Linked DNA regions of Homo sapiens. The protein of the gene in region 1 purifies or fractionates together with the protein of each later gene. This does not show direct contact. Each region holds a gene or a part of one and is shown on either strand. Other genes may lie near its edges. The genes, in order: TNIP3, CNKSR2 and LRRC47.

What was found.
Region 2: the proteins of TNIP3 (region 1) and CNKSR2 purify together in Homo sapiens (co-immunoprecipitation; one large-scale study listed by IntAct). This does not show direct contact.
Region 3: the proteins of TNIP3 (region 1) and LRRC47 purify together in Homo sapiens (co-immunoprecipitation; one large-scale study listed by IntAct). This does not show direct contact.

Annotation. Positions count from the first base shown.
Region 1 is NC_000004.12:121,133,135-121,136,864, forward strand, and holds part of TNIP3 (TNFAIP3-interacting protein 3), read right to left. Parts: intron 3,552-3,730; coding exon of another isoform or gene 3,445-3,551; exon of another isoform or gene 2,644-3,444; intron 1-2,643. UniProt on the Homo sapiens protein: Binds to zinc finger protein TNFAIP3 and inhibits NF-kappa-B activation induced by tumor necrosis factor, Toll-like receptor 4 (TLR4), interleukin-1 and 12-O-tetradecanoylphorbol-13-acetate.
Region 2 is NC_000023.11:21,426,418-21,429,917, forward strand, and holds part of CNKSR2 (connector enhancer of kinase suppressor of ras 2), read left to right. Parts: intron 1-79; coding exon 80-243; intron 244-3,500.
Region 3 is NC_000001.11:3,782,789-3,786,518, forward strand, and holds part of LRRC47 (leucine-rich repeat-containing protein 47), read right to left. Parts: intron 2,416-3,730; coding exon 2,299-2,415; intron 1,324-2,298; coding exon 1,208-1,323; intron 1-1,207.

The DNA.
Region 1 (3,730 bases):
CTGGAATATTTTGATTGAGTACTATTTGATAATGAATACTACATGAAAGACAAAGTCAAATAAGTTTACTCATGGCAACAGGAAAAAATAATCATAGAAATGCCAAGAAACAAAGAGTTATCCTTATCCCTGATAACTTAAAAATATGCTGAATGTTTTGTACTTGTTGTCCTCATTTGGTATACCAAAGATGTGCTAAACTAACATTTTGGTAACAGAAAAAGCAAATAGGAAGATAATAAGTTACTTTTCCAGGCTGAAAAATTATGTTGCTGAGGACTGTGGTCACTATGTTAAAAAGGTATCTAATATGTTGAGAACATAAATTTGAACTCAGAAGCATAAATTAATTGATCTAACCAATCTGAAGTTAACATTAAATAAATCCACTAATGATACCTCTCCCTAGGTATCTTAAATATTTTAAAATTAACTCCTTTTCAATTTGTACAGTGCTCTTGTGAAACAGGCATAGAATTAAAGATCAATAGCCTGATATTTTAGATGGAGAGAGGCTGTGGCCAATGAGATAATCCACGGCAGAATGGAAATCTGAACAAAAACAAAGATAGGTCTTTAGGTTCTTGAAGGGAAGGCAGAATTTCCCTAAATGTACAGTGAAGGTGGGAGGAGGGCCTTAATCCACTGTAACTGGTGTGTGTGTAAGAACAGGAAAATTTGGACACAGATGGAAGATGGTCATGTGAAGACCGAGGCAGAGATTGCAGTGATGCTGCCACTAGCTAAGGAATACCTGGAGCTACTAGATGCTGAAAGAGGCAAGGAAGTCTCCTCCCCAGAGGATTTGGAAGGAGCTTGGCCCTGCCAACATCTTGATTTTTGGATATCTAACCTCCAGAGCTATGAAAAAAAAAGTTTTTCTATTTTAAGCCACCCAGCTTGTGGTATTTTGTTATGGCAATCCTAGGAGACAAATCCAGTCAGTATTTAATTGGTTAGTATTAGACATTAGTAAAAGCTAATCATAATATTTAGGCTTTGATCTTCTATATTGTAAAGAAGTAATTTCACAACACAGTTTCACATCCCTACATTTTATGCCTTTCTAGATACATTAATAATCCATCTCTGGCTCATTAGACAAAGCATAACTCTGTACCCTATGAAAAATTTGGAATGTACAGAAGTGACTGGCATGCAATGCAATCAGAAACCATAGCTTTTTGACATTTCAGAAAGGAAGAAACAAACAACATGTTTTTCAAGGTTAAACTAACTCTGTTATGACATAATTGTTCTATAAACATGGAAGTCATTTTGCATCTCGTTCTGATAACAGATGAAACAAGATGAAAATGTTCTTTGTAAAATCACGTTTCTAAACAAAAGCTGTAACTCATTAATATCTGTGGACTTCAATGTATTAAAAACATCATTATTTAATGCTATACAGAGAGAAAGCCAAGTCTCAAATGACTTGAAAACATTCGAAACCCTTCATTTAAAATCTTTAGTTTTTGAAAGAAGGGTTGATTTTCAATGTGTCTCCAAAGCATTCTGAAATAACCACAGACAGTAACTGAGAGCAAAGCTGGAAATTAGTTGACTGGAAGTCTGTGCACCATGGTACTCAGCACCTACCACCCTCAGTCCCTAGTCAGGAAGCCCTTCACTGATGTCCCCATCTTATAGAGGACTCTGCTCTAGCCCTCCTCCAGCCACACCCTTCCTCACAGTGTGAGCGACGTTTCCTCCAGAACAAGCTCCTCCTGGCACCCAAATGCACATCCCCGAAGTCCCTGCCCAGGTGATTCTGGGCCTGCTTCCAAGATTCATGTGGTCCTCTTCCCAGCCTGAAGGCTGTCGAAAGAGTGTTGTGTGTAGAGTGGTGAGGGGTGTATGGACAAGGGTGGGATCTCCCAGCTGGGCTGTCTTCAAGTCTGCACTCAAGAGTCCTTATGATGGGAAGGTGGGGAGAGAAGGTCGAGGGTCCCAGGCAGGAGGCCAGGGCTTAGGTCTCCCTGTGCCACCATGTCCTGTCACAGACTGGTTTTGAAACTGAGCATTGTAAATTGTACTTTGGTTTTCCATGTATGTTTATCAAGGTAGGAGGATAGATTATACTTTAACAGTTTCTATGCTTGATTCATGAGATTTACACAGATAGGATGTAGCTCTCCACTTATTCTTGCTCCAGGCCCCAGAAATGTTAGAGGAGGATTTAGTGGTATCATTGAAATTTAATCACTCATTATCTGCCATACCTTTTCAAATGCATGAAGTTACTTCTTCTTCTTTTTTTTTATTTTTTTTTATTTTTGAGATAGAGTCATTTTCTGTCACCCAGGCTTGAGCGCAGTGGCGTGATCTCACCTCACCGCAACCTTGGCCTCCTGGGCTCATGTGATCCTCCTACCTTAGTCTCCCAAGTAGCTGGGACTACAGGCACATGCCACTAGACTTGGTTAATTTTTGTATTTTTTTGTAGAGACAGGGTTTCACCATGTTGCCCAGGCTGGGCTTGAACTCCTAGGCTCAAGCAATCTGCCCACGTTGGCCTCACAAAGCGCTGGGATTATAGGCATGAGCCACCACTCCTGGCCTTAAACTAGTGATTTCTTAATAGTCAATACCACAAAATTATTTTATGAGAATTCTGAGCAATTCAGTTACACCAACAGATTAAAAGGACCGTTTTAATTAAATGAACCCCAAACCAGCAAGAACCACTACTGAAATTAAATAATGACACATCCATCATTTATGACAAGAGTGATGTCAGAGTTCTGCCAATTCTTATGACATGGCTTAAGCTATGAAATACATCAACTGTGGAAGCTAGTAAAGGAGGCATAGGAATCCCAAACAGGTAGACTTTTGAGTGAGGAATTTTTTGGTGGTGCCCTAACCATGATCAGCCCTCTTCTCTGCTGCTGGCCAGCCATAGTTAGTTGCAGAGCTGTGTTAGTATGGAAAAGGATAGGTTTCAAATGACAACATATCCTGGTCAGGTTCCACCAGGGCTGTCCATGCACAGGTTAGTTCATAACATATTTATTACACACTTAATCTTACATAGTACCGTGCCTTTTACTTGTGATATTCTAAATGTCAAATGAGTAGCATGCTGTGAGTTCACACAAAGATGAGATTATTGAGGGTTAAATGCTAGTCATATTATTATCTATGTTAGAGTCCCCTTCTCATTTTTGTATCTATACTTTCAGAAAATTTCAATAAAGTGAGAGAGGTACAGTAAGAGGGGCACTGTACTATATAATTCAAACCATATGTTTTAGAATCCTATATATCAAATAATCTAATCCCCTTGCTAAATTTTATTAACTGTGTGATTTAGGCGTGTTACTTAAATTCTCTAAGCCTCAGTTTCCTCATGTGTTAAATAGTGCAAAACAAAACCTATTTCATAGCTTTGTTGTGAAGATTGAAATAATGCTTTAAAAACAGGCCGGGTGTAGTGGCTCACACCTGAAATTTCAGCACTTTGGGAGCCAGAGGCAGGAGGATCACTTGAGGCCAGGAGTTCGAGACCAGCCTGGCAACAGACTGGAGGTGGAGCAAGACACCATCTGAACAAAAAATAAAAATAAAAATTAGCTGGGCATGGTGGTTCATGCCTGTAGCCCTATTCATGAGGCTGAGGTGGGATGATTTCTTGAGCCCAGGAGTTTAAGGGTACAGTGAGCTATGATCACACCAGTGCACTACTCCAGCCTGGGTGACAGAGTAAGACTGTCTCCGAAAAAAA
Region 2 (3,500 bases), on another chromosome or scaffold:
GCTTGCTTCTAACCCACCCTTCACATTTATTTGGTTTGACCATGTTTTCATTCTGGTCTTTCATACTTTTATTTTGTAGGTCTTGATGACTGTTTGCAGCAGTATATTAAGAACTTTGAGAGGGAGAAGATCAGTGGGGACCAGCTGCTGCGCATTACACATCAGGAGCTAGAAGATCTGGGGGTCAGCCGCATTGGCCATCAGGAACTGATCTTGGAAGCAGTTGACCTTCTGTGTGCATTGGTAAGGACATAAAACTGGTGAAGAGGGAAACTTCTCTTTTTCTTCTTTTGTTGCTTTTCCCTTTTTTCTTCTCCTCTTTTGATAATCGAAATGCAAATAGAAGAAAAAAACTCTGATTCTCAACCAGCTGGACCTGATATTTTCTTCCTTCCTTAAATTTATTATATTAGTGCCAAATAACAGTTCCCTGTTTGTAACATCTTTTATAACAGTAAGACTTGGGTATATCAGAACCTTAAGTCCAGAGTGTATGTCTCATAAGCAGGGCTCTTCATAGATGAACCACTCATGTGCTAGGCTCTCACACTGCCAGTTGAGAAAGGAAAGAATATTGATTGACAGTGTTACATACATACAGTCTAGACGTTTGAAGTTTGACCCATGAACAAGGCTCTGCCGACCTAAACCTACTTAAAAGGATGGCATCAGAAATAGATGTCTAGACCACTTCTAAGTTTGAACCATGTAGCTGTGGTGAATCCTTTCTGATGCTGAGCTTTAATCCCTGTACAGTTCTGGGTTTAAGCACCAGGTTTAAGTCATGTCATTTGGATAGTTCATTATGTGATTGAGCTCTTCTGGAAGTTAATGCGGAAAATAAATTTAAACACCATTTTTTTTTCTGTTTATTCAGCAATTCCTTAGTCGCAGTCCCCAAAGAGGTCAAATGTTAAACTTCCTTCTTACCCCTTCCTAATGTAGTGGATATACATCAACAAGTCAGAAGTACAGATGTATTTCAGTTTATGCAACAGATGCTTTCTGGGGAATATAAAGCAAATTTCTGGGTAGTGAATTCTAATTTTCTTCTACATACCATTATGAAATCAGGAGGTGAGATTCCTTATCAACAAGCTGAGTTGACTAGTCCAGGAAGTTGTGCTATTGGGACTATATCTTTACCTCCTTCCCCTCTATCCCCAACTACTCTTTGAATTTCCGTTTACCCTGCTAAGTCTTGTCTCTCTGATCTTTACTGGCCTTTCTACATTTTCCTTATGTCTACTGTATTCATTTCTTTTTCAACAATTACATATTCATGCTCAAACAGTGCTATCACGGGGAATGCAAAGATGAAAAAGACAGTCTGTACTCCTGAAACATATACAGTCCATTAAGAAAGACAATAGCCATCAGAAGACAACATAGATTTAAAGAAAATTCCAGGGGAGTGTAGAAGGAAATGAACACTTCTGAGGGATTCAGGAAGTGTAGGTAAGATATGCATTTGGTCTTGCAGGATGATGAGATGTTTGCCAGACAAAAAGTTGGAGAAAAGTTATCTAGGCAGAAGAAATATCATGTGTAAAGACAGAATTGTGAAAGAATATGGAATATTCAGAGAAAATTGAGAATTTTCATTTAGCTTGTGCAGAATGGGAAGTGATGGGAAAAAAGGGAACTTAACACCTTGTATTACAATTCTTTGCTTAGGTTCTTTTATCCTTTAATTCATGTTGGGCTCCTCAAAGGAAGACATCTTTGTTTAGTTCATATTTTTTATTCAGCTTTCTGCCCAGTGCTTAGCTCATAAAAGATGCTAAATTAATGTTATCTTACTGAATTAAACTCTCTGTCTTTCTTCAGAGAAGCATAATTTTTCTCTTACCTGCATAGCCTTTGACTTTGAAGTTTCTGTTCCTCATATAAAGGAAGACATAGAAAAATTAGCAGATTCCTTTTGTTTCTTTAAGCTATACTATATTTTCGTCTACCTTGTCTTGAAGTTATTCCTTATGTGAATAAATGTTTATGGCAGCTGATGAGAATCAAAGGTTTATTTAGTCACTTGTTTATTCATGCAACATATATTTATTAAGCATCAGATATATTGTTTGCATCATGTTATTCTAGAAAGAAGTAAGCTGTTCATGATTTGGAGGTGTAATAATATTTCAAGCTATTAAGCTATAATTTAGTATGCTTTAATAGAGAGCAAAGATATTAACTGAAAGAGTAAAAATGTAAATAAAAATATATATATAGCTTAACGTATGGTCCTTAATTTGTGTTCTGACAATACACTTTTTATTAGGAACTGTAAATAAATCATTTATGACAGGATAAGAACAGTTTTCATTTCATTTTTCATGTACTTATAATTTCAGGCATTTTGCATGAAAGATTTGATGTTTGCAATTGCTGGGATTTGTTTCTTTGCAACATAATTGCTTGGTTCATTCATCTTAAAATAATTTATTTTCCAAAAAAATTCATTAAAGCAAGCCTTTTAGGACTCACTCATATTTATAAAGCAATGTATTATAAAGCTAAAAAGGTGCTACACGATGCATTCAAATTAAGAACTCTGAATAAAATGGCATTGACATTGTAAAATCTGTTGTTGCCAATATTAAGTATTTCTAGTTAAGTGGTTAGTGAAAATTTGCCACTAGTGAGGATATAGCTGACCTTATTTTTCTAAAATGTTAAATACATTTCTTTATTTCTTTCAAATGCTTTTGCATGCATATGATTGAAAGAGAAGGCTGATATGAACTTAGCATAAATTCATTAAGACTTAAATGGCTGTGTTGAATCAGTTCTAAGTCATTACTGGTTCTGGCACATGGTAATGGCCAAGTATATGAACAAATAAGTAACATATATGACAAACACAGCAGCTAAGTACATTTCATGTATAAGTTTTTGTTTTCTTGAGGTAGTCCTTTTTATACTAATAGTAATACCAAGTTTTGCTATGCATATCCAATAAAAAGCAAATCTGTGGTGAATAAACCTGCATTTTTAAAAAGTTGAGGCAGTGCCCTCCGTACCCCTGGCCTAACACAAAAGGTGCTTGATATACTTGTCAGTTCTTTAAATGGTAGGTAAGGGTGTGTGATTTACTGGTGACTTACCATGTCACAACAAACCATCCACTTACATGAAAGAAATAGCCAGAAGGTATCTGTATTGGTAGTAATTGAGAATTGTAATTATAAAAATTAACCTGAGGCTGGGCATGGTGGCATGCCTGTAATTCCAGCACTTTGGGAGCCTGAGGAGGGCAGATCACTTGAGCCTAGGAGTTCAAGACCAGCCTGGGCAATGTAGCAAGACCACATCTCTACAAAAAATTTAAAAATTAGCCAGGTGTGCTGGCATACACCTGTAGTACCAGGTACTTAGAAGGCTGAGGTGGAAGGATCGCTTGAACCCAGGAAGTCCAGGCTGCAGTGAGCTGTGATAATGCCACTGCACTCCATCCTGGGTGACAGAACGAGACCCTGTATCAAAAAAATAAAATAAAATAA
Region 3 (3,730 bases), on another chromosome or scaffold:
AGGCATAATTATAAAAGAAACACTGTGCTGGGTGTGGTGGCATGTGCCTGTGGTCCCAGCACTCAGGAGGCTGAGACAGGAGGGCTGCATGGGCCCAGGAGTTGGCTGGGGTGTGCTGTGCCAATGGAGTGTCTACGCTAAGTCTGTCATCACTATGGTGAGCTCCTGGGAGTGGAGGACCACCAGGCTGCCTAAAGAGGAGTGAACCAGCCCAGGTCAGAAACAGAGCAGGACAAAAAGCTCCGGTGCTGATCAGTAGTGGGACTGCGCCTATGATTAGCCACCTCACTCCAGCCTGGGCAACATGGCGCGACCACATCTTAAAAAAAAAAAAAAAGAAAAAAGGCACAGCTGGGCGTGGTGGCTCACGCCTGTAATCCTAGCAGTTTGGGAGGCTGAGGCAGGCAGACTGCTTGAAGTCAGGAGTTCAGGACCAGCCTGGCTAACATGGCGAAACCCCGTCTCTACTAAAAACACAAATATTAGCCAGGCATGGTGGCAGGCGCCTGTAATCCCAGCTACTCGGGAGGCTGAGGCGGCAGAATCGCTTGAACCTAGGAGGTGGAGGTTGCAGTGAGCCAAGATCGTGCCATTGCACTCCAGCCTGGGCGACAAGAGTGAGACCCCATCTCAAAAAAAAAAAAAAAAGCACACACCTGAAAACATACCTAAAGGGTAAAATGGACGACTCAAAAAGTTCTTTACACAAATTAAGTGTAATATCAAGGGCCCAAGCATAACAAGCTTCAAAGAACAAAGTATTCTGAAGCCTGTGTTTACAGAAATCACTGGGCTAGTTACGGATGATCATCTTGCTTAGAGCAGCACCAAGGACCCTGACTTGGATGATACCCAACAGCGCACGGTATGGATAAAATGCTGTGGGTTGGGCTGGCATTTATGTCTGTTTCCTAATGGCTAGTTTATATCCTGTCCTGTCCCATCCTGAGGGCCACCCGCCCCCTGTGGAATGGCCAATACCTCCGCTCCTAACACCTTCCACTTCCCTCACGTCAGGGCCATCTAGATGACAGACTGGTTCCACAACGTCTCCTTTGGAAAGAGAATGCTTTCTTTGTACCCTGTTAAGAAGCTTCTGGGTTCTGGTAGCATTAGGCGGTTCCTGAGGAGCACAGACTAACTCAGCTGAGGCCAGCATGCGGCACTCCCCCGGGCCCGGCCCCACCCCACCAGGCACGCTGCCCACCTGTGCAGGCCCGACACACTCTGCCGCTTCTTCTGCTTCCTCTGCTCCTCGGCCTCCAGCTGCAGCTGCCGCACCAGCTCCTTGGCCTTGGCTTCTTTCCGCCCCAAGGGGACAATCTATCGGGCAGAAACCCACAAACTCCACTAGGGTCACAGCCACAGAACTCGCCCATCGTGTCGATTACGGCCTTAAGCCTCAATGAGCCCTCCCGACTCCCGCCCTCATTCATCTCTACAGCAGGCAGGGAGCATCCCACGGGACCACGCAGCAAGAAGCTGCATGTGGGCTGCCACTGCAGCGTCCCGGGGAGACCTGACGCCCAAACACACCGATCCTACTGAGGCAGGGCTTAACCTTAAAGCCAGCTCATGCACAACTGTTTCCAGAGGTCTGCCATCCTCAGAAGGCCAAAAGAGGAGAGAAAGGCTGAGCAGCCGGGACCTCGTGCACTCCACAGATTCAACAGCCCAGGACAGCACGACACAGCAACTCACCCTACTGCCAACCCCACGCAAACGGTTTTACTATCGGGACAGAGACCAAAATTTCTGATTAAAAGGTAGTGAGCGAGTGAAGGAAACCATTTTCCCAACGACTGCTCATCCGCCGAGTCCTCTCACAGCTGTGCACCGCTTCGAGTAACCGCAAACGCGGTCTGTTTCATTATTTCATGTCTTTGCAAGAACAGCATCGGATCCTACTCTAAAGAAAATGTTCAGGCCGGGTGCGGTGGCTTACGCCTGTAATCCCAGCACTTTGGGAGGCCAAGTTGGGCGGATCACCTGAGGCCTGGAGTTTGAGACCAGCCTGACCAACATGGAGAAACCTCGTCTCTACTAAAAATACAAAATTAGCTGGGCGTGGTGGCACATGCCTGTAAACTCAGCTATTCGGGAGGCTGAAGCAGGAGAATCGCTTCAACCCAGGAGGCAGAGGCTGCAGTGAGCCGAGATTGTGCCACTGCACTCCAGCCTGGGCAACAATGGAACTCCATCTCCAAAAAAAAAAAAAGTTCGGGCTGCAGTAGCAGCATGGCGTCTTTCGACACCAAGGAGACTCTTCAGCAGACCCTGCAAAGGAGGCTGCAGCACCTTGAGGTCCTGTGGGGGCCGGGCGCAGTACAGCAGGGGCCCTTTGACGGCACGGAGCTCGTGGGTGGCAAGGGTGGCAGCCGTCCTCTTCTCACAGAGATCTTCGTGGAGCTTGGTCTGTAACACAGAAGCAGTGATGAGCAAGGTCTCTTGTGCCCTGAAGCCCAGCGAGGTGTCCACACTTCACCCTTGGCTGGGCTGTGTGCCAGGAAACCCTCCCGGTCCAAGGTCTTCACAACCACGCCACGCCCCTTTCCGAGACAGGGCTCCCCTCCAACTCCTCTCCACCCGGCCAGCCAGGCACTCACTTTGTGGAATCACCATCAGGAAAACTATCTTAACCTATCAATCAGCAGACTTTCTTCCTTCTCTAATTCTGACATAATATTTGAGATTTCAAAGAACCCATCTTGAACTAAAATGTAAATAAAGGCTGAGCTTTAAGTTGTAAAGCCCTGGCTGTGATGCCTGTTCCCTTCCTCCCCAAGCTGCAGGCAGGACTCTCACGACAGTCACTCTCGGCCCGCCATGCTCTGTCGCTGCCACTGCGGGGCGCACGAGACTTTCCCCTGGGCACAGAGGTGCTTTATATTTTAAAAGTTGGTCAGGTGTCACAGAAAAGCAACTGGGAAGTTAGTCTTGCCAAAACCTAAACAATTCACAGAAGAATGTGCTGGCAAGAGTTGATGACTTTAATACTGTCTTACATAAAACAAAATGTGTGATTTACTGCAGAAGTCAGAAAACCCACCAAAATATCAAAAAATCAAGGAACCCTGATTTTCCTTTTTTTTTTTTTTTGAGATGGAGTCTTGCTGTGTCACCCAGGCTGGAATGCGGTGGTGCAATCTTGGCTCACTGCAACCTCCACCTCCCAGGTTCAAGTGATTCTCCTGCCTCGGCCTCCCCAGTAGCTGGGATTAAAGGTGCTCACCACCACGCCTGGCTAATTTTTGTGTTTTCGGTAGAGATGGGGTTTCGTCATGTTGTCCAGGCTGGTCTCAAACTCCTGACCTCAGGTGATGCACCCACCTCGGCCTCCTGAAGTGCTGGGATTACAGGCGTGAGCCACCGCACCAGCTGGAACCCTGATTTTCAACTGCAATAAAGCTATCCAGAAATTAGGATAGGCCAGGTGTGGTGGCTGACACCCGTAATCCCCACACTTTGGGAGGCCAAGGCGGGTGGACTGCTTGAGGTCAGGAGTTCAAGACCAACCTGGCCAACATGGTGAAACCTCATCTCTTTTAAAAATACAAAAAAATTAGCCAGACATGATGGTGAGCACCTGTAATGCCAGCTACTCAGCAGGCTGAGGCAGGAGAATCACTTGAACCCAGGAGGCGGACGCTACAGTGAGATTAGACTGCGCCACCGTACTCCAGCCTGGGAGACAAAGCGAGACTCCTTAAAAAAAAAAAATCAGGATAAA